3 separate regions of the Homo sapiens genome follow, and all the other regions are linked to region 1. The links come from fine-mapping of genetic effects on gene expression. A gene starts in region 1. Each other region holds a variant in brackets. All regions are shown on one strand. Distances are between the middles of the regions.

Evidence for each region.
Region 2: its variant is fine-mapped to the expression of PHF20 in tibial artery (GTEx, PIP 0.90).
Region 3: its variant is fine-mapped to the expression of PHF20 in whole blood (TOPMed, PIP above 0.99).

Annotation. Positions count from the first base shown.
Region 1 is chr20:35,768,446-35,776,031 of GRCh38, forward strand. It overlaps PHF20 (PHD finger protein 20), which reads left to right and starts at 3,570. Exons shown (of 18, transcript NM_016436.5): 1 at 3,570-3,634. It also overlaps the pseudogene LOC124904972. RefSeq lists silencers at 3,638-4,017, 5,022-5,316.
Region 2 is chr20:36,541,433-36,549,018 of GRCh38, forward strand. It overlaps MYL9 (myosin light chain 9), which reads left to right and starts at 87. Exons shown (of 4, transcript NM_006097.5): 1 at 87-129; 2 at 3,427-3,636; 3 at 6,600-6,761. The coding sequence starts at 3,453. All of the region lies in intron 2 of DLGAP4-AS1 (DLGAP4 antisense RNA 1), which reads right to left. RefSeq lists a silencer at 1-107 and enhancers at 888-1,541, 1,542-2,195, 2,196-2,849, 2,850-3,503, 6,124-7,052. The variant T/G (reference allele first, on the strand shown) is at 4,227.
Region 3 is chr20:35,903,209-35,910,794 of GRCh38, forward strand. The region is part of intron 10 of PHF20 (PHD finger protein 20); the gene reads left to right. Among named protein-coding and RNA genes, the nearest start is that of SCAND1, 48 kb to the right of the region's middle. RefSeq lists an enhancer at 3,415-3,915. The variant C/T (reference allele first, on the strand shown) is at 3,901.

The sequences.
Region 1 (7,586 bases):
ACTGTAAGTGCTTTAGGGTTGCATAAGGATAGAGTATAGAGGTTTGCTGGGTAGACATTGAGAAAGATCAGTTTCCTAATTGAATATTTTATCTCATGTTGGATCTTTAATTCTGCTTCTCTTTAGCTAGGAATATTTTGAATATGCTGAATCTAGTAAAAAAGAAATTAGAAATGAAGTTGTATAGAACTTTGTAGTTCAGTACATTTTCTCACATATTATTGAACTTAAACGTGACAATTCTGCGTTGGTAGATATATATTATCCCATTGAGTAAAAAAAGTGAATATTGAAGAAAAGCAATGCCTACAGAGAGTGACAACTCTTCCATGCAGGTAGATGCTTTTTGTGCTATCCTATACTTTGTATGGATGCACACAGGGTTTCATTGTGGAGCTCTCAGCTTATGGGCTGGGACTACAGTTTTGAAATACAGTATTAGTAAGATGCTGGGGAGGATCTTAAGGCAGAAGGTAGATGTTACTTCTGGTCTAAAGTCAGTGGACTTTAGACCAAAATCTTGTAAACTGGAGCTCTCTGGCTAGCATTCCATTAATATTCAGTTCAGAAGAAGCTGGTAAGTCAAATTTCTGCAAGTTTTTACATCAGAAAGAGCTTAGCTCACAAGGTACTTTTTTCTCATCTGTATTCAGTTATTTTTCCCTGATCAGTGTCAGTCTCCTTCCAACCCTCACTTCCCATCTTGGGGAGTACCCTTAGGGGCAGGTCATTCCTCTCTTCTTTCCCTGGCAGGCTGGACTCATCCATGTGACCTGAGATTGGCCAATCGACAGTGGCTGCTGGCCAAGACCTTGCCTCTTGAGTGAGTGACTCAAAGACAAAGGGATACTAAGATTGAATCACAGCAGTGGTGCGCAGTGTTGCTGGGGGCAGCAGCTGTTGTTGCTCTTTCTTGGTGGAGCTGTCCTTGTGCCTGTTTGTTTTCCAAGCCTGCACTCCTGTTGTAGCTCAGGGGCCCTTGTAACATATTTCTCTTTTGCTTGCCATGATTACTTCACCAGTCTGTGAGCTCCTCGAGAGCAGGGCCTAAGTCTCATTGTGCTCTGAGTGTTTGGTGCCCATCTTGAATTTGACTCTCGGTAAATGCAGGTTGAATAAGTAAAGAAACATGCTATATTTATACGGGGCTACAGAGTCTGGAGTTCTTGGCATTATTGTGGTTGGGGGGCAAAAAGTTCTTTGTGTGCTACCATAGCCACTGACATCTGAGCAATTTCATATTAATAAACATAAACCCAGAGGATCTTGGGAAGGCCCTTCCTATATGTGAGCACTTACTTGACTGAGTGGCACTGATTCTCAAATTGCTGATTTTTTAAAAAGTATGAAATGTATCATGAATTTGCATGCTTATCCTTATGCAGGGGTCATGTGAATCTTTTCTGTATTGTTACAATTTTATTTTATTTTATTATTATTTTTTGAGATGGAATCTTGCTCTATCACCCAGGCTAGAGTGCAGTGGTGCTATCTCGGCTCACTGCAACCTCTGCCTCCAGGGTTCAAGTCATTCTCCTGCCTCAGCCTCTCAAGTAGCTGGGACTACAGGCATGCACCACCACACCTGGCTAATTTTTGCATTTTTAGTAGAGAGAGGGTTTCACCATGTTGGCCAGGCTGGTCTCGAACTCCTCACCTCAGGTAATCTGCCCGTCTTGGCCTCCCAAAGTGCTGGGATTACATGCGTGAGCCACCGCGCCCAGCCATGTTACAATTTTAATAGAATACATGTACTGCCCAAGCAAGTGTAGCTGAAGCTTTTGTCCCTGGTTCCACAGTGTCTCTACCTAAGGGCTGCTCTTTGCCCTGACTACCTCAACTGAGGCAATACCCTCCTTAGTTTCCAGCCCTGGTTTAAAAAGCACCCCTCAGGCTGGATTTGCTGGCTGAGGCCTGTAATTCCAGCATTTCTGGAGGCTGAGGCAGGAGGATCACTTGAGCCAAGGAGTTTGAGACCAGCCTGGTCAACAAAGTGAGACCCTGTCTCTAAAAAAAAAAAAAAAAAAACTCGGCCGGGCACGGTGGCTCACGCTTGTAATCGCAGTATTTTAGGAGGCCGAGGCGCGCGGATCATGAGGTCAGGAGTTCAAGACCAGCCTGGCCAAGATGGTGAAAACCCGTCTCTACTAAAAAAAATATAAAAAATTAGCTGGGCGTGGCGGCGTGCGCCTGTAATCCCAGCTACTTGGGAGGCTGAGGCAAAGAATTGCTTGAACCCGGGAGGCAGAGGTTGCAGTGAGCCAAGATCGCACCACTGCACTCCCGTCTGGGCTACAGAGCGAGACTCTATCTCAAAAAAAAAAAAAAAAAGTGGCCAAGTACGGTGTTAATTCCAGCACTCTGGGAGGCTGAGGTGGGTGGACTGCTTGAGCCCAGGAATTCAAGACCAGCCTGGGCAACATCGTGAAACTGCGTCTCTACAAAAAAATGCAAAAATTAGCCAGGTGCACACCTGTGGTTCCAGCTATCTGGGAGACTGAGGTGGGAGAATTGCTTGGGCCTAGGAGGTGGAGGTTATGAGGAGCCGAGACTGCGCCACTGCACTCCAGCCTGGGTGACACAGTGAGACCGTGTCTCAAAAAAAAAAAAAAATTAGCTAGGCATGGTGGCATGGGCCTGCAGTCCCAGCTACTCAGAAGGTTGAGCTGGGACCACAGGTGCGCACGTTCACGCCTGGCTAATTGTTGTATTTCTTGGAGAGACGGGGGTCTAGCTATGTTGCCCAGGCTGGTCTCGAACTCCTGAGCTCAAGTGATCTACCCACCTCAGCCTCTCATAGTGTTGGGATTACAGGCGTGAGCCACTGCTCCTGGTCTCATATTCTTTTGGGGTGGCTTCAACTCCGACCTTCGTCCCCAGAGAAAATACAGCTCCTTATCCTTAGCAGCAATTGGAAACCTTTCTAGGAGTTAATGATAAAGTGGGGGAGAAATGAGTGCAAAGGCTCTGAGATGAGAAGAACCTGGATTGTTAGCGGAGTTGAAGGACACTGAGAATGTGGGGGAGCTGGATTCGTGAGGATAAGAAAGCAGCAGGTCAGGTCCAGACTTTGAAGAGCCTGGTAGATAGTCTAGGTGAAGAGTTAGATCTTAATCCGGAGTAGGGAGGGAAACGAGCTTTGAGCAGGGGATGGCGTTTTGAAAAGACCTCTCTGCCGGTGTACGAAGAATGGATTAGAACGGCGAAGAGTAATAGGGTGGAAACCATCTTCATCTTGGAGAGAGATGGTGGTCGCTTCGATGGAGAAATGGGAAGCTTTGAGACGCATTTAGGTGGCAAAATTAACGGGTGATGGATAGCGTCCATTCCCCGGCTTCGGTGATCTCAGTGATTACGAGTGAGTGGGGACTTCGTGTTCCTGCTAGGGCGCGGGCCTGTTTCCCGCGCGTCAGGGTAGTGGGCGTGGCCTGCGCAGGCCGTTGCCACAGTGATCGGGCAGACGGGGCAGGGGGCGGGGCAGCTGGGACCTTACGTCACTCGGTGGTGGCGATGATGCGTGTGTGTGGGGGGCGGGGCATACGCTGGGCGCGTCCCGGGGGTCACGTGGTGCAGAGCACGCAGAGTCCTTCTGTCGGTTGGTCCTGGAGCGGCGCAGCCGGAGTGGGGCCGTGAGGTGAGCTCGCGGCCAGGCGAAGCCGGCCGGCCGGGCCGGGTTGGGCCGGGCCCGCGCTGCGCGCGCGCCGTGCGGGCGGGGACGGCGACGGACGCCACCGCTGCTTCGGTCCCCTGCCCGGCCCCGCTCCCCGCCTGGCCCCGCTCGCCCAGCCTGGAGGGAGGCCCTGGGACTGCTGCTGAGAGCGTGGCGGGCGTGCGAGCGGTGCCCAATCCCCGGGGCTACCCGCAAGAGTGGCGGCGGCTGCCGCCAATCAGCGCCGCCCGAGGGGGCTGGGCCGTGGGGTGCGGGCCCGGGGCGCGGAGCGGGCCGTGTTGGGGGTGCGGGTAAGCCCTAGGGCCCGAGCCTGAGCTGTGTGGGCACCTAGAGCCTCATCAGCAGCCTCTGCTATTGCCTTGCGCTTTGGGAATATGTTTTTTAAAATTGGCTTTTTTTATCCTATTCTGGGGAGCACATTCCTTTCTCAAGACCCCAAATATGGGAGTGTCCCTTTTCTCTATAGTTTTGAAAACTGGGCGGCACACCCCCTTTCTTAAGCTCTAGCTCTGGAATTTTATCTAAATTTCTAAAAGCCCTCCCCCCCCCAAATTTAGGGCGTACCCTCTTCCGTCAGCCCCCAAAGTGGGAGCACATTCCTTTTTTCGGGCCTCCAATTTGATTCTGCATTTCCGTTCCAATTTAGAGGTTCACCCTGTTATCGGGTCCTCAGATCTGGGGTCCATTAGCTAAAGTTTTGGGATACTTTCTTGTATCCCCTCTACTCCAAGGAAGAATTCCCCTTTTCCAGGTCCCAAATCTGACAGCATGCCTTCTGGAATTTCTTACATTTAGGGGCCACTTCCTTTCCTCAGCCCTTCAAACCTGAGGTTGGGCCGAAAACAATGTCCAAATTTTGAAGTTTATGGGTACTTATTTCCAGTTTCACAAATAAGGGAATTCACTGCCTTCTCCCGAGACTGTATTATTGGGGTTACACACTTTTCACGTGTTCCCCAAATCAAACTACCTTATTTCCTGAAGGAGACTCATTTTCATATCTGGGAGTATATTTGTTTCTTGTGCCCCCCAAATGTACGAGGTGAACCCCTTTTAGTTATACAACTCTCAGAGTGCAGCCACTTTCCAGATGCTTCTTAAATTTGGGGGGCACACCTTTTTGTGAGTCCTCTCATTTCCAGGTGGCGAGTGGTCTGTGGTTTTGAGCATGCCTTCCTACCCTGTTTAGCTTTTCTGTCATCCAAGACATTTTCATTCCTCAGTTTCCTTCCCTTTTTGGAGCCACACTCCCCTTGAGGTGCTTTCCCCAGTCTGGTCAGTGCACCCATTTCCTCTTCCTCTGGCGAGTGCGTATCTTTGTTCAGCACGGCACTTTTCTCTGTGCTTCTGCGGGCTTTTCTTCTGAGCACACTTCCCAGAGTCACACCTCCTGAATTCTCCTCTCCTCCCAGGGAAGGATTCCTCTCCTAAAGGGCTACCAGCACATTGTTTTTGATAGGCCTATCTTTTATCTTTCCGCTAGCAGGATCTCTTCTCTCTTGGCTTGCCCAATCCCCAAACATTTTTCTGGTTTCTGTCTTTCTTTGGAATTGTTCTGTTTACCTAGTGGCTATAAAGATTTTCCTTGTGCTGGAGGTGGCCTCAAGTCTAGGACTGCCTGGGCCCCCAGCGCTGGATTCAAAGTGGAAACCATTTCTTTGGTTAATCACAGGACTCTGAATCCTCCTGGTGGTTTACTTCTAGAAGACCTAAGATTCTGTTTAGGTGCATACTGTTTTCTCCTTTGCTTTATCTCCTTGTGCTGGAAAACAAAAACAAACAAAACTCTCAGATTTTTCCAGCACTGCTTCTAGCCCATAAACTTCTTCCCTATATTGGCTTTCTTACTATCTTTTATGAAGAAAAGATGTCGTTTGGAGGAATCCCTTGGATACTCTTTTTGTTCTTGTCCCTGGGGTGTCGGTGGGGAAATGGATATTTTTCTCTCCCAATCATCCTCTTGTCAATCTTCTTTTTTTTTTTTTGAGACAGAGTCTCGCTCTGTCGCCCAGGCTGGAGTGCAGTGGCGCGATCTCGGCTCAGTGCAAGCTCCGCCTCCCGGGTTCACGACATTCTCCTGCCTCAGCCTCCCGAGCAGCTGGGACTACAGGCACCCACCACACCGCGCCCGTCTAATTTTTTTGTTTTTAGTAGAGACGGGGTTTCACTGTGGTCTCGATCTCCTGACCTCGTGATCCACCCGCCTCCGCCTCCCAAAGTGCTGGGATTACAGGCGTGAGCCACCAAGCCCGGCCAACCTCTTGTCAATCTTTACCCCCAATCCTCACATTAAAATCTGCAAATATCTGGGACCTCCTATCTCTTAAGAGCCTCAATAGTTCTTTCTTTTGTGTTTCCTTCTGCCTTTACAGATCTTATTCAGGGCTTCTCAGCCTGAACCCCCAACCAGATTAATTTCTCCACAGCTGGAATTCCAAGTGCTTGGGGATAATGATACCTCTGACCTTTCTTCCTTTTGGGAAGTACTTGAGTGTGCAGCTGCATGAGGCCTCAGCAGGAGAGAGATTTTAGGTCCAAGAAGCTATACCAGTAGGACAAGGCAGGAAAATACTACACTTTCAGGATCAAGCCCCTCTGACTCTCATTTGGAAACTGGATGTTTGCTAAGCACCTGCTTCTTAAGGATGCCGAGGGATTTAATGATACTCCCAGAAACCTGGAGAGATTAATGGGGCCTATGGAGAAGTGCTCTGAACTCAGTGTTGGGACTTGAATAAAATTAACCATTGTCATGTTTTCAGAACAACTAAGCTGTTTTATATTTCATGTGCATGAAAGCCCTAGAACTAAGTTGTGTTATTTCCAGAAATGAAATAGATCCCACAGTTAGATGATGTGGCCATTAGGAAGTACCAAATTTATAAAAATCACTGGAGGTCTGTCTGAGCAGTACCTAATAAAATATAGTATACTGAAAGTGAACAGATACTTTGTCTCTTTCTTTGGCTGCTTGATACTTTATCTGTGTACTGCCGTACAGTGCACCCTTAAAGTATTCTACACCAGTGCTTCTCAAACTTGAATGTGCATGTAAGTCACCCAGGGGTCTTGTTGAAATGCTGATTCTGATTTGGTAGATCTAGGATGGGACCTGAATGCATTTCTGATTTGCAGGTGATGCTGATGTTACTGAACTACACTTTTAGTAGTGAGGTTTCATACACGAAGACAAAGTTTCTCTGTGAAAATAGGAAGGTGGTGGTTAGCCTTATATTTTTTTATTTTATCTTTATCCAGACACACATCCCTTAAAAGTTTGTACAAGGCCATAGTCCCCTTTATTAGTTATACTCAATTAGTTATTCTAGCACATAGCTTTTTAAATATTGGCCAAAACTGGCTGGGCACGGTGGCTCATGCTTGTAATCCCAGCACTTTGGGAGCTGAGGCGGGCAGATCACGAGGTCAGGAGTTCGAGACCAGTCTGGCTAACACAGTGAAACCCTGTCTCTACTAAAAATAGAAAAATTACCTGGGTGTGGTGGCAGGCACCTGTAATCCCAGCTACATGGGAGGCTGAGGCAGAATACTTGCTTGAACCCGGGAGGCGGAGGTTGCAGTGAGCCAAAATTGCACCACTGCACTCCAGCCTGGGCCACAGAGTGAGACTCTGTCTCCAAAAAAAAAAAAAAAAAAAAGGCCAAAACTTCTCCAGGAGTTTGGTTTCTGTGTGTATATATATATATTTTGGGTGGGGACAGGGTCTCATTCTGTCACCCAAGCTGGAGTGCAGTGGTGTGATCACGGCTTACTGCAGCCTCAACCTTCTGGGCTCAAGCGATCCTCCCCTCAGCCTCTTGAGTTTCAGGGACCACTGGCACGTGCCACCACACCTGGCTAATTTTAAATTTTTTGTAGAGATGAGATCTTGCCATTTTGCCCAGGTTGGTCTTGA
Region 2 (7,586 bases), 770 kb after region 1:
CCCCGCCCCGCGCACATTCTTCTGCCTTGTAAGGCCCGGCCGCCACGCCCCGCCCCCGCCTGGAGTCCAGACCCGACGGCCGGCCCAGTTCCACGCACCCAGCGAGCCCAAGCGCCTTCTCCGCACCAGGTGGGATCCGGGGCCCCGGGGGTCTTGAGGACAGGCCTAACGGCCCAGGGCTGGAGATGAGAGGTGGCCCGGGCCCGACCCGGCTGTCACGGGGGGCAAAGGCGGGCCCCACGGACTGGGACGTGGTAGGGTCTGTTGGGCACGGACTGAGGGGTGAGCTGGGGCAGCGAGTTTGCTGGGGGCCGACAGGGACTCTGGCCAGGGGCCGGGCAGCAGGAAGGCTGTTCTGGCCTCTGAGAAGCAGTGGTCCTGCGGCAAGGGAAGGCCATCGTCCAGGCCCTGCCCCTTTGCTGAGGAGCTGGAGATGCCAAGCCCAGAGCTCCGGGGGGGGCTGGGGAGCCCGGGTACAAGGGTGCTGGGGAGAGGGTTGCAGTCGTCAGTTCCCCCTGGCCCAGTAAAGGCATGTGTGTCACAGATGGAGAAACAGCCCTGTGGGACTCCACGCCCCCACAGCATCTGTGTCCCCTCCCCATCTCCCATCCCTACACCCTGGGCCAGGGGAAAGGGACCGAGACCAGGGGGCCCTTCCGACACAGCCAGTGCTGTATGCAGGGACCCGGGCCTTCCCCTCTCTGGGTCATCTCGCCTGTGGGTGGGGAAGGTCTGCGGAGGGCCCTGATGGACTCACCCCTAGGGGGCAGGACGAGGACTAGTGGCTGGGAGAACCTGATCCCTGCTCTTCCCAGCCCTCCAGCTGCTCTAAGGAGGAGACTCAGATGAGGTGCACTGAGAAGGAGGCATCTGGCCTGCCCAGCTCCAGGGGCTGGAGGTCATGGGGGCACTGCCCTGTGCTGGCTTCAGCCCAGCCTTTTCTGTTATGGTGGGAATCTGGACACCAGGATGGGGGACATGGCATCCAGTCACATCCAGGCCAAGTATCAGTGCTGACCCCTGGTGTCTAGGGCACCTGAAGGGGGAAGCGATGGCCTCAGAACTAAAGGCCCCACCCATGCCTGCCCCTCGCCCCTCCACCAGTTCTAGAAGGCGCCTCTGGATACACAGAGCCCTTTCCCACTCCACTGCCACAGGCCCGCCTGAGGACTGGGGCTCCCTGTTTTGTTCAAGCCTCGAGGGCACCAGCAGCCAAGTTTGCTCTCCACTGACCCAAACCTAGCCCAGGAATCCTGTCTTCCAGGTGGCCCCTCCCCCTCTCATGGGCACTCCACTCCCCTTCTGGGGCCTCTTTTCCTAGCTGCACCATGGGGGCACCCCTGCCTCCGCTCACCACTTCCCACAATTGCTGGGGTGGACATGGCGGCCTTGTGCAAGCCCTTAAGTACAGTGCTCCCAGCCACACCACAGCAGAGAGTGCAGACCGGGTGGCCATGAAGGCAGAGGGGCCCAGCTGGGCTCAGACCCAGCTGTGGGTGGCCTGGCCATGCCTGCCCTAGAGCTTCATAGAGTGTGGTGGGGACAGTGATGGCCATCACAGCCTCTGTTGGGCACAGTGCACTGCCTCTCTGCATGCAGCCTTCTGTGGGCACCAGGAGTCAAAGTTCCCGAGAACACTGGACTCAGGGAAGGACTAGGCCCCTCTAAAGCACGGGAGAGGAGGGGGCCGGCATCTGGGGACAATGGCACTCCCAACTAGGTCATGGGTGAGAAGGAATTCTGTCTACCTTCCTGAACCATGCAAGAAACACTGAGGGCTGGGTGTGTCGGTCCGTGGGACACGGGCAACCACTGTCTCATGACTACAGGCAGTGATGGCCCTGGGGACCAGCTGGGGCTGGCCGGGATCCCAGTCCAGGGTTGATGATCTCAAAGGCCAAGGACCGAGAATGACTTCAACAGAGTCATGGGAGGAAGGCCTGGAAACAGCTCAAGTTGCAACCACACAGCTTGGGGTGAACAACAGGCAGAGGAGGCTTCCTGGAGGCCCTGGGCCCGGGGGTTTGGGCAGAGGGAAGAGGGGCCGCAGTCCTGGAACCTCAGCCAGGCCCACTGCCCCAGCCGAGGGAAGGAGGCACTGGGTCTTCAGGCGCATATCCCCACAAGCTGTGGCAAGCATTCAGGGAAACAGTCCCAGGCCTGGTCTCAGTTTCCCCATCTGTACAGTAGAAGCAGCAGACTGGCCGTAGTTGCCTTCATATAGTCATTCATCAAACAAGCATCTGTTAGCCCAACTATGGCCTGGGATTGGTGTAAACTGGGGGATCTATGCTGGCCCACAAGGGAGAGAGATCTTTAAGTGTTTACTGTGGAAGCAAGGGTACAGGGAACAGCTCCCTAGGAGAGGGGGGCGGTCTCAAGAACTGGGCTGGAGAAGAAAGAGCACAGGGGAGGAGGGGACCACAGAGGAAAGCCTGGGAGTGTCCAGGGAACTGCAGAGGTCAGAAGGGTAGGATTGTGGGTCACAAGAGGGACACCACGAGGGCTGTCAGAGAGGCCAGGAGGGACTCACACAGGGCCTTGAATGCCAGGATGAGGGACCCAGACTTGCTCTGAGGGGCGGCAGGAACCTTCAAGGGCTTCACAATGATAGGTGTAGGTCAGGGTCTGTATGGGACAGAAGAGGCCGGCTGGAGGCTAAGAAGCCAGGTCTAAGCAAGGGTGAAGAAGCTGGGGTTCTCAGCCCAAGCAAGCCTCACACCCCGATAAGCAGTGGGGAGTGAGAACAAGGAGTGGGACCCAGGATCAGTCTGTGACCACTCACCACTGGGGGGCTGGTCAAGCTCCCTGAGGTGGACAGGCGGGGGTTTGACTGCCCAGAGCCTCCTAGAACCTCAGGCGGGCAGCAGAGGGATGGAGTGGGAGAGTGAGGAACGGCAGGAATGCAGGAATGCTGATCCAGCTCCTTCCTGCAGGGCCAGGGAGCCTGGATGGCAGCCCAGGAGAGCCCTCACTGACTCCCACGAGTGGACCCACCTTGTCACTTGGAAAGAGAGAGGGACAGTGTAAATGCTATTAAGGATTAAAGGAGATAAAGCATGGTAATGGTTGGCACCAAGCCCAATCCTAAGTGTTTTACCCAAACAGTCACAGCCAAAATAGCTGATTCCATGCCCGGCACTGTTCCAGGAGCTCTCGGGCACTGAGTCAGTTAATCCCTACTGCTGGGCACTCCTCATGTCTCCAGTCCCAGATGAAGACTCTCGGGCTCAGAGAGGTAGAGGAAGTTGTTCAGAATCACACAGCCACACTTGTCTGCTTTTGTGAAGAACTGGGTGGTGGGAGCCCCAAATCCGTGGGCAGCCTTGAATGCCAGGCCGAAGTGCTAAAAGCCAGTCTGGGGGAGGCAGGAAGATTCCCTGGCCCAGAGTCACAGGGCCACCCAACCCCCACCCCTTCCTGCAGGGAAGCCCCACCCACCAGAAGCCAAGATGTCCAGCAAGCGGGCCAAAGCCAAGACCACCAAGAAGCGGCCACAGCGGGCCACATCCAATGTCTTCGCAATGTTTGACCAGTCCCAGATCCAGGAGTTTAAGGAGGCTTTCAACATGATTGACCAGAACCGTGATGGCTTCATTGACAAGGAGGACCTGCACGACATGCTGGCCTCGCTGGGTGAGCTGGGACAGGGACAGGGGTGAGATGGATGAGGCCAGGCAGGCTCTGCCAATCATTTACAGGGCACCTCCTGTGTAGTGAGACGCGTGGTGTCCACCTTAGAGAATAGTTGCCATTAACTTAGTCCATTCAACAGGGAAACTGGGCCGGGCGCGGTGGCTCACGCCTGTAATCCCAGCACTTTGGGAGGCCAAGGCGGGCGGATCAATAGGTCAGGAGATCGAGACCATCCTGGCTAACACGGTGAAACCCTGACTCTACTAAAAATACCAAAAATTAGCCGAGCGTGGTGGCGGGCGCCTGTAGTCCCAGCTACTTGGGAGGCTGAGGCAGGAGAATGGCGTGAACCCGGAAAGCGGAGGTTGCAGTGAGCCGAGATCGCCCCACTGCACTCCAGCCTGGGCAACAGAGCGAGACTCCATCTCAAAAAAAAAAAAAAAAACAGGGAAACTGAAGCACAAAGCAGGTCCACCACAGGGTCTGAACGTAGACAGGCTGACTCCACAGTGGGCCTGTCTTAGGCAGATTTGTGCACTGGGCTGCCAGGTATCATTTCATTTAAAGAAAGGGGTCAGCTGGCCAGGCGC[T/G]GTGGCTCACGCCTGTAATCCCAGCATTTTGGGAGGCCAAGGCGGGCGGATCACGAGGTCAGAAGATCGAGATCATCCTGGCTAACATGGTGAAACCCCGTCTCTACTAAAAATACAAAAATTAGCTGGGCGTGGTGGCGGGCGCCAGCTACTCGGGAGGCTGAGGCAGGAGAATGGTGTGAACCTGGGAGGCGGAGTTTGCAGTGAGCCAAGATCACGCCACTGCACTCCAGCCTGGGCGACAGAGCAAGACTCCGTCTCAAAACAGAAAGAAAGGAAAGAAAGAGGTCAGCATCTAAATGAAAGTGTGAACTGCAGGCTGCCCACTGCACAGATGGGGAAACTGAGGCCTAGAGGGGCGGCCAGACCAGCTCCCCTCCTTCAGAGGTCACCCATCTCAGGCTCTCATAGCCTCTCTGGTCCCAGTGACTTCCTCAGGATCAGGACCTTAGAACTAACAGGGTACAAAAATCAAGTCCAATTCTCTACTGCAGATGGGGAAACACAGGCCCAGAGGCAAGGCCTCCACAGACCATGCCCCAACCCACGGGCCTGCCCCAACATCCCTCCCAAAGTGCTGGCCACAGCCAGCCACTCTCAGCCCAGTTCCCGCGTACCCCTCATGCCGAGTGACAGCATCCAGACCAGACACTGCCTGGGGGAGGGAGAGTCCAGGACCAGAGGACACAGCCCCGTGACAGTCAAGCCTCGAGCTTTGAGGCCAGAGAGTCAGTCCCTGGTAGGGCCCTGTGCACTTTCCTCTTCCTGTGAAATGGGGCCATGACCCTGACATTTCCCCACGAGGCACTGAGCAGGAGAACCAGGCAAACCTGAGTGGGAGAACTGACAGCACGCTGCCCCCGGCCCTGAGCACCAAACCTCTCCCCGCTTCTGGCCAGGCTCGCTTGAAGGCTCCCTCCCCCAGGAGGTCACCTGGCAGGAAGTAAACTCCAGGGTTCTTTTTTTTTCCCCCCGAGACAAAATCTCACTCTGTTGCCCAGGCTGGAGTGGCACCATCTCGGCTCACTGCAACCTCCGTCTCCCAGGTTCAAGAGATTCTCCTGCCTCAGCCTCCCCAGTAGCTGGGATTACAGACGTGCGCCACCATGCCCGGCTAATTTTTGTATTTTTAGTAGAGACAGGGTTTCGCCATGTTGGCCAGGCTGGTCTCAAACTCCAGAGCCCATCTTGGCCTCCCAAAGTACTGGGATTACAGGTGTGAGCTACCACGCCTGGCCAACTCCAGGGTTCTTATCTGGGGCTTTCCCAGCTTCGTGGAAGGACTGAGGCCTGGTGAGAGAAGGGGCTGGCCTTAAGTACCCCAGTGTCCTGGCGTCACAGCTCCTCTTGGGCCTCAGCTTCCATGGCCATCCCAGGGGGACACAGCAGGGTATGTGAGGCTCAGGGACATGAAAACTTCCTATTTCCAAGGCCACACCCTGCACCCAGGCCCCTGAACCCCTGAGACTTCATGACAGCCCTGGGTGTCCACCCAGAAAAACATGCACTGTGTTTGTAGCTCATATCCGTGGGTCTGCAGGTGAGTCACACCCTTATCTTCAAGTTAAAAACAAGAGCAGCAAATATAATAATAAGAAGAAGCCCTGCAGGTATTATCTTAAATCTCAAAGCAATCCTATTGAACAGATACAATTATTCCCACTTTACAAACAAGGAAACTGAGGCTCAGAGAGGTTAAGTAATTTACCCAAGGTCACACAGCTACCAAGTAGTGGGGCTGCAATAGAAACCCAGCAGTTGATTCCAGTCCATAGGCCTGTGCCAGTCATTGTTATGAGCCTTTTGCAACTACTGTCTTCACAATTCCCCTAAGAGATGGGGAAAACCAAGGTGCACAGCTGGGATCCAAACCCAGGCCTGTCTGACAGCAAAGCACTGTGTCTGGACTTTGGAGTTAGGCTGCCTGGGTTCAAATGCCAGGTCTACTCAAGTCTCCTCCTTACTTGCTGTCTGACCCTGGACAAGTCACCTGGCCTCTCTGTGCCTCAGCTTCCATACCTGTGAAGTGGGTAAGAATGCTGACTTCACAGGGTGGTGAAAGTTAAATGCAATAAGGCACGTGGTCGACCAGCCACAGCGAGCAGTCTGCAGAGGGTTGTTCTTATTACACTTTAGTGAGCACTGCCGGCTGCTGACATCCAGGCCACAGGAGGAAACTGGTGGGAGCAGCCAGGGACTCCGGGCGCCCACTGCTGTGGCTGCGCTAGAGCCATGCTTTCCAGTTCACAAAACCCACTACCTCCCGTCTCACACGGAGCGGTGAAGGGCAGGGGTGGGGGACGGGGGTGCAAGTTGTCCCAGCTGGGGACAGAGGGCCCAGGACCACAGGCTGGAACACCCCACCTGCCACAGGGAAGAACCCCACAGACGAATACCTGGAGGGCATGATGAGCGAGGCCCCGGGGCCCATCAACTTCACCATGTTCCTCACCATGTTTGGGGAGAAGCTGAACGGCACGGACCCCGAGGATGTGATTCGCAACGCCTTTGCCTGCTTCGACGAGGAAGCCTCAGGTCCGTGGCGCCCCCTACCACCACTCTGCATGCAAGTGGAACAGGGCCCAGGCATTCAGTGCCTCTGCCCCTAAGGGCCAGAACAGACATCACCCATCTCCCAGGTTCTGTCACCAGAACTATAAAAGCCAGGCCACCTCCTTATTGTCGCCGCAAAGGCTAGGCCAGAACAGCCCATGCCCCAAGACTCCTGCCTTCGTGATCTCCCCCGCTGGCCCAATGCACATTCTCCATCTGTTTTAGACCTTTCCAGAAATCAAACCATTTCATGCCTTTCTTGCCAAGAAGGTATAGAAACTGGCCCCCCTCCTCGGATCTCCTAACGGATATTCCATCCCTCAGCTCATTTTTCCCAGGGACATGTCAGGGTGATGATGGCCATGGTAACATGGCCATGGGCCCGCACGGGCCTGACTACCTTCACGGTCCCTCACTGCAATGGCATACGTTCATCCCTGTTTTCTAGATTAAACAGGCACACGGAGGTTAAGGACCTTGCCCAAAGTCACATAGCTAGGGAGAATGGGAATCAGCACTGCAACTCAGGCAGTGGAACTCCAGAGCTCACGCTTAAAACAGGGCACACCCAACACCATCTGTGTGCACAGCCTCAAGTTCCCCAAGTGACACCTCGGAGACAGTCCCACTGCACAACTCCTCCCCTCAGGACCCTGGCACCCCTTCACGTGGGATCCGACACCCCTTCACGTGCACCCCCACACCCCTCCTGCCACGTCCTCATTCCTCAGACTGACCAGAGACTAAGATTGTATCTTCCCAGCCCCTCTAGGTCTGCAAGAGCTGCCAGGGGGCTGAGGGATGGGG
Region 3 (7,586 bases), 130 kb after region 1:
ATTTCTTGGTGAATTGGAGATTTTTGTTTACCAGTTTTTAAAAATAAGGCCTGCTGTATACTCACTAGACTAGTAGGGTTGGACAATTATAAAATGCTTTAAGGGAAACAAGAGTCTTTTAAATCCCTATGCTTTAACTTGTTGCCAAAAGGTTTTTTAAGTCCTTATGTTTTAATTTGTTTAAAGTGGTCCTTTGTAAAATTGATCAATTTAGCAGCAGAATGTGCCACACAGACCACTCACCCACTGTTTGATCATTTCTGTACCCTCTCAGTGAGGGCACAGTCTGATCATTTCTGTACCCTCTCAGTGAGGGCAGGATTTGTGCAGCCAGGAAGGAATGTACCCCCATCCACATGTCAAGTGGACACAGCCTCCTAGACAACATGGCGATTACCCAAATGTATCTCCCATGCCTCATTGCTGATACGTTTAGCAGTTACCAGACCGAAGGAACTAGACCATCCATCTTGCTGTGATCCAGATGGAAAATTGAAAGCCTGGCCACCAGCCCTGACTGTGCCACTAACCAGCAAGAGCCTCGGTATTATCATATGTGGATGGGGCTCAGTAGACATGTTCAGTGTTTATCACGTAGCTGGCTATCAATGAGAGTGAACATAGTAGTGTATGCTGAAGATTCTGTAGTGTGGCTGCCTTATTCTGCTGCAGCTCTCCAGAAGGCACCCCTGTTCCAGGCATCACCCCTTACCTTTCTCCCATCAAAGCCTTGCCCCAGTTTGTCAGGGTTTTACTGGATACTTGACTAATCTGATAACCAAAAATTTGAAAGAATAGAACCAACTTAATAGTATTGTGGTTTCACCTCAGGCTTCTGAGAATGCTCTTATCAGGGTGGAATTTCAGACAGTGTGGGGAGTTCAGTTGGGGAGACGTTTCACTGGGAGACGTTTCACAGTGGGACTCTGATACCAGGCAGCCTGTGTTTTAGTTTACAGGCAGTGTGAACTTGACATTCTGCTTAAGTGAAAAACAGAATATTATAGGATTTGTGCTGCGTGATAATAGTAACTGTAAAAAAGTACCCCCTTTATGCTGAATGCTCTGATTTTTTTTTTTTTTTTTTTTTTTTTGAGACAGAATCTCACTCTGTTGCCCAGCCTGGAGTGCAGTGGCGTGATCTTGGCTCACTGCAACCTCTGCCTTCGGGGTTCAAGCAATTCTCCTGCCTCAGCCTCCCAAATAGCTGGTATTACAGGCATTCACCACCACACCCAGCTAATTTTTGTATTTTTAGTACAGATGGGGTTTTGCCATGTTGTCCAGGCTGGTCTTGAACTCCTGGCCTCAAGTGGTCCCGAACTTGGGTTCTCATGGATTTCTCTGATGGAGATTCCTGGGGCTTCCAGCAAAACCACTGGGACTCGAAAGTACCCTGCAGAGATTTCTTGGCTTTGGACTCCTCAATATCTGGGTTGGTAAGGTTGGGCAGAAGTAGTAGTTCTGGTCTGAGAGTCCGTAGACTGATCTTAGTAGCAACCTGCCACTGTTCCCTTTGTGATCTCAGGCAGGTCTCTTCACAGATCTGATTTCTTTTCTCCTTCCTTCCTTCCTTCCTTCCTTCCTTCCTTCCTTTCTTTTCTTTCTTTCTCTTTCTTTTTTTTTGTTTGTTTGAGATGAAGTTTCACTCTTGTTGCCCAGGCTGGAGTGCAATAGTGCGATCTTGGCTCACCACAACCTCCGCCTCCCGGATTCAAATGATTCTCCTGCCTCAGCCTCCCGAGTAGCTGGGATTACAGGCGTGCACCACCATGCCTGGCTAATTTTGTATTTTTAGTAGAGACTGGGCTTCTCCGTGTTGGTCAGGCTGGTCTCAAACTCCCGACCTCAGATGATCTGCCTGCCTTGGCCTCCCAAAGTGCTGGGATTACAGAGATGAGCCACCGTGCCTGGCTGATCTCCTCATTTCTAAAGTGATGATGTAGAGCTAGGTATGCATGAGACCAGGCCCTTTCATGTGGGGAGAAAAGCTCATAAACAACGTGAGAAAGCTAAGTTCTGTGTTAGGAACATGTAAAGTGCTGTGGGAACACAGATTCAGATTTTGCCTGTAGGGTAGGAGCTGGACTGTTGAGAGGAGAAGGTGACATTTGAGTTAGGCCTTGCTGTGAATTGAATTGTGTCCTGCCTTCCTCCCTAAAATTCATCTGTTGAAGTCCTAACCCTCAGTGTGATGGTATTTGGCAATAATTAAGTTTAAATGATGTCATGAGGTTGGGGCCTTCATGATGGGATTAGTGGCATTATAGGAAGAGATCAGAGCTCCCCCTATCCCCCCATGTGAGGATGTAGCAAGAAGATGGCCATCTGCAAACTGGGAAGAGGGGCCTCACTGGGAACCAAATAGTCTGGCACCTTGATCTTGTAGTTTCCAACCTCCAGAACTGTGAGAAAGAAATATCTGTTGTTTAAGCCACATATAACATAATGTTTTGTTATAACAGCCTGAGCAGACTAACCCACGCCTTAAGGAGTGAGGCTAGATAGGAATTGGACCAGAAGCCGGGAAGAGGAAAAGCATCCCTGTGCCAGGAATAGGCATAGCAAGGGTTCAGAGGCATCAAGGGGAATAAACCAATCATCTGTCCCTAAGGTGCCCCTTCTGATGCCAGCCTTCTGTAATCCTGTCACTCATATGGTTCTTCTGCTCTCAGCCAAGCCTTTAGTTGCAAAATGAATTTAGAAGGTCAGTTTAGATTTGCTTTTCCAAATGAGGTTTCTCAGTATACCAGAGTCACTTAATAAATTCTCTTCCAGTAGCCAGCTCAGGCTCCCTTGGGTTTCTTTCTACTTAGGTGAGTTCAGTCCTGAATACAGGTTAGGCTCAGAAAGAATTTTCTAGTGTCAAAGAGGGCCTCTCCTGTGCTTATTATTACTTATTGCTACATCTGTTTGAGTCGTGCTCTCACCCTGGGTAAACCTCAGTTTTAGGCCAAAGTGAGCCTTGGGGCACTGGAGTGGGCACCTCTTCATTGCCATCCACACCTTTTCTCATGGGACTACACTGGCCTTATCGCAGGAACATGTCCTCCTCCCCTTAAAACAAAAAGAGCAGTGTGAGCTTAATTAGAATATGGATTATAGTGCCATAACAGAGAGAACAACATAGCTGGCTAAAATCAGAGAAGTTTATTTCCCTCTCAGGATGAACTGCAAGTTACCCATGGTGGCTGTGCTCAGGCTCTGAAGGTCCCCGGGCCTTGCTTTCTCCCCATTGTTCCACCAGGCTCTAAAGGTCCCTGGGCCTTGCTTTCTCCCCGTTTTTCCACCAGGATCTGAAGGTCCCTGGGCCTTGCTTTCTCCCCGTTGTTCCACCAGGCTCTGAAGGTTCCTGGGCCTTGCTTTCTCCCCGTTGTTGCCCCAGGTGCTGCTCTTCTTTGGTGTCCAAAATGGCTCCCTGCCTTGCTTATCTTTCAGCTGCTGGGAAGGGAAGTGAAGGGAAAGTATGCTCCTTTCTTTTAAGGCACAACCCAGAAGTGCCACACATCACTTCTTGTATCCGATAGGCAGAACATCTGCCACCCCTCTCTCAAGGGAACATGGAACATGAACTCTTCCTATGGAAGAAGTGGAGAAATAGTGTTGGGAAGGGCACTGCAGCCTTTACCACATGAGCTAAGAAGAATGCAGGGCTTGAGGAGGGAGGGGTTATTGGAGGGCCATCCTGGGTTGGTATCTGGGTGGGACTCATGGTAGGGGACTGATAGGAGATGAGATTGGGAAGGTAGACATGGTGAAATGACAGTGGCAGACCCTGACTACCACTTCTCTGATAGGCAGAGAGAACCCCTCCAAGCCCATATCTGCTTCTGTCTGCCCTTGAGCTACCACCCCCTTGTGCAGATCAGAACATGCTCTGGTCAGTGCTTGTCCCAGCCT[C/T]GTGGCTGAGCTCTGTGGTGTACAAGCAGTTACCCCATAGGTGGTGGTGATGCTATTCTTTTCCCTCCTGGAAGCGGCGGTCTGATGACAGTTGTCCCTCTGCTCTCATAAATCAGTGACTGGATGGAATACTCAAGAGTCAGCTGTATGGAGGAGCAAGAGGGCCTCTGGTATTTCTCCTGATGGACACCTGCAGCTTGGGGAGAGGACAAGTGGCCATCCTGGAGGAAAGCCTCACCCTGCTTAGGTGACAAGCTGCTCTCTGATCCAGAGCCTGGCAGGAAGTCACTCTTTGTCCAACCTAGTCAGGGCAGCCGGGAGGAAGCTCCACAGCCAGTACATGCTCTGTGGGTCATGGAACAATTGGTAAAGCTGTCCAGAGAGAGAGTTGACAGCAGACCAGCGACCAGCACTGCTTTCCAGGGAAAGAATATTGCAAGCAAGATAATAACAGCTGACATTTGAGTACTTCATGTGCTGGGCGCTGTTCCAAGTTCGTTACTTGTATTGTCTTATTTAGTTATCAGAACAAACCCTCTGAGGTGGGTGCTGTTATGCCTAATTTATGCAGTTATTCCACTGTGGTCTCAGAGTGTGGTTGATATGATTTCAATGATTTGAATTCACTGATACTTGGTTTATGGCCAAGCATGTGGTCAATTTTAGATTATTTGCCATTTGCAGATGGGTGGAATGTATAGTTTGTCATTGCTGGATTTAAGTCCAGTATTTCTTTGTTTTTTGCCTCGATGATCTTTCTAATGCTGTGTCAGAGGGGTGTTGAAGTCCCCCACTAAAATTATGTGACTAAGTCTTTCTTTAGGTCTGGAAGTACTTGTTTTAAGAATTTGGATGCTCTAATGTTGGCATATTAGGCATCTATAATGCCTAATTTATAGATTAGAAACTAAGGTGCAGATGAGATGGATTAATTTGAACCAATATTTACAGCTCTAGCAGGTGGTGGAGCCATGATTTGAATCTGTTGTGAAGCCCATACTCTCACTTTGAGGCTCTGCTGTCTTTTATGATTCCAGGGAAGAGTGCCTGTCCCAGGCCCTGGAGTGGGAGATAGGAGTGCCTCCCTGCAGGAGACTTCCTGTGCACCTGGCAGTCTGGGGATTTCTGCCTGTTGTCACCTTGTCTACTCCTGTTCCTCAGGGACTCACCTGCCTTAGCTCAGTCCTTGCTGGGCAATTCTCTGTGTCTTTTCTAGGGCCTGCAAGTTCTGCCACTGGAGTTTACAAATGACCACTATCTTTAGCCAGATAACCAGGTATGCCCTAGCATTGGGCAGTTTTCCTCTACATCTTGCCCTCTCTGTCTCAAGGATTTAGGACCTAGATTATGTTGCTGCTTCAGGCAGTTCTGCTGCTGACAAGATAAATTCTGTTAGCATTTCACTAAGCTGATGGGTATAATTACTTTAGTTGGAGGTCACTAAAACCTGAATTTACAAATAAAAACTGGATCAGGGAGCAGTCTGTGTGTGTGTTGTGGAGGAGTGTGGGTGAAGGTACAACAGATAATATCCCTCCTTTGCTGAGATCCTTCCAGTGGCTCCCTAAATCACTCATAGTAAAAGCCAACTTCCTCACAGGGCCCTTCATCATGTTCTGCTGCTAGCCTCCATCTGCTTCTTTCCCTTACTCAACCTAATTCTAATTTCAGTTCCATTGGAGCCATACAGATCTCCTTGCTATTTCTTTATTTCAAATTCCAGTTATTCATTGCTGGCATATAGAAAAGCAATAGATTGTTGTATATTAACTTTGTGTCTTGTAACCTTGCTGTAAGTGCTGTTCTGGCAGTCTTTGTTTTGATCAATTCTTTGGGATATTCTACATAGACAGATCATCTGCAAACAAAGATAGTGTTATTTCTTCCATTTCAATCTGTAGAGCTTTTATTTCCTTTTCTGGCTTATTCCACTCGCTAAGATTTCCAGTAAAATGTTGAATAGGAGTAGAGAGAGAGGCACCTTGCTTTGTTCCTGATCTTAAGGGGAAAGCATCCAATTTCTTACCATTAAGTATGAAGTTGGCTGCAAAGAAGTTCTTTATCCAGTTGAGGAAATTCCCTCCTATTCATAGTTTGCTGCCCCATCAGCTTTTTAGGTTGGTGCAAAAGTAATTGTGGTTTTTGCTGTGACTTTCAGTGGCAAAAACAGCAATTCTTTTGCACCAACTGAATAGAATGTAGCTCTGTGAGGGACAGGGGGTGTTATCTGTCTTTGTTCATTGCAATATCCCTCCTCCCTAGAATGTGCCTGGAACATAGTATATGCATGGTATCTGTTGCCTAAATGAATTGAAACCATGGCTAATAATACGGTGGTAGTCAAACTGTGTAAAAATGAGTTTTGTTTTTATGTTTGGGGAAGACCCTGTTCTCAGGATCAATGAAAAGTAAAAATGACTGATAGCTTTTTTGAAATTCAGAAGGCATCTGACCATGTTTTGCCAGTCTGCTGTCTTTGGGCCTTGGGTTTTTGGTTTTAAAAATGAGTGCTTTTACAAATTGGTCTAAGTTCTCTCCAGCTTTCATGTTTGTTGACTTTCTTTCTAGTTGCAGGGTATTTTAAAAGTTAAGGAGCTCAAATACCCTTAAGTCCTATGTTCTCTAGCCAGTAGATCAACTCTGCCTATAGATTCCAGGCTTGCCAGCCAGTAGGCACAGCCCACTCTTCCTTTCTGATGGTTACCAAGTGCTAATTTGGGAGAGGGGCCTGGGTTGCAGAGGAGACATGGTGCTGGAGAGTCAGACCAATTTGCTTTTAAATACCTATGTGATGTCAGGTGGGTGATTTCACCTCTCTGAGCTTCAGTTTCCCGGCCTGTAAAATGGGAATGATATACACACAAGTTGTTGTAAGGATTAAATGAGATATTTGTGGTTTCCTTGCACACAAGTGCTTAGTTAAAATGGAATCTGATTGTCTACCCTGCCTCACACCTGCTTTGTGGATATCTTGATTCCATATCAGAATCACTTGGAAAGTTTTAAAAATCCTGATATCCTTGAAAACATCATGCTAAATGAAAGAAACCAGACACAAAAGGTCACATATTGTATGGTTCCATATTTATGAGATATCCAGAGTAGATAAGCCCATGGAGTCAGATGCAGGTTGGTGGGGCTGAGGGGAAGGGCTTAGGGGAGGGGAAATGCTGCTTAATGGTAAAGGGTTTTACTTTGGAGTGATGGAAATGTTCTTAGAACTATATCAAAGTGGTCGTACAACATTGTGAATGTACTAAATGCAACTGAATTGGTTGTTTTTCTTTACAGCTGTATCGAGACTTAATTGTACAATGAACTACACATATTTAAATGGTATAATTGGTGAGATTTGACATATGTTTATACCCAACTATCACCACAATCAAGATAGTAAACATATTCCATTCCCTCCCAAACTTTCCTCATGCCCCTTTTTAGTTCCTCCTTCCCACCTCTCCCCTCCCCCTGAGCTCCAGGCAACCACTATTCTGCTTACTGTTACTTGTGGTGTGTTTTCTCTCTTTTTTCTTCCCCCCCGAGATGGAGTCGCTGTGTTGCCCAGGCTGGAGTGAAGTGGCACGATCTCAACTCACTACAACCTCTGCCTCCTGGGCTCAAGCGATTCTCCTGCCTCAGCCTCCCAAGTAGCTGGGATTACAGGCATGAGCCACCACACCCAGCTA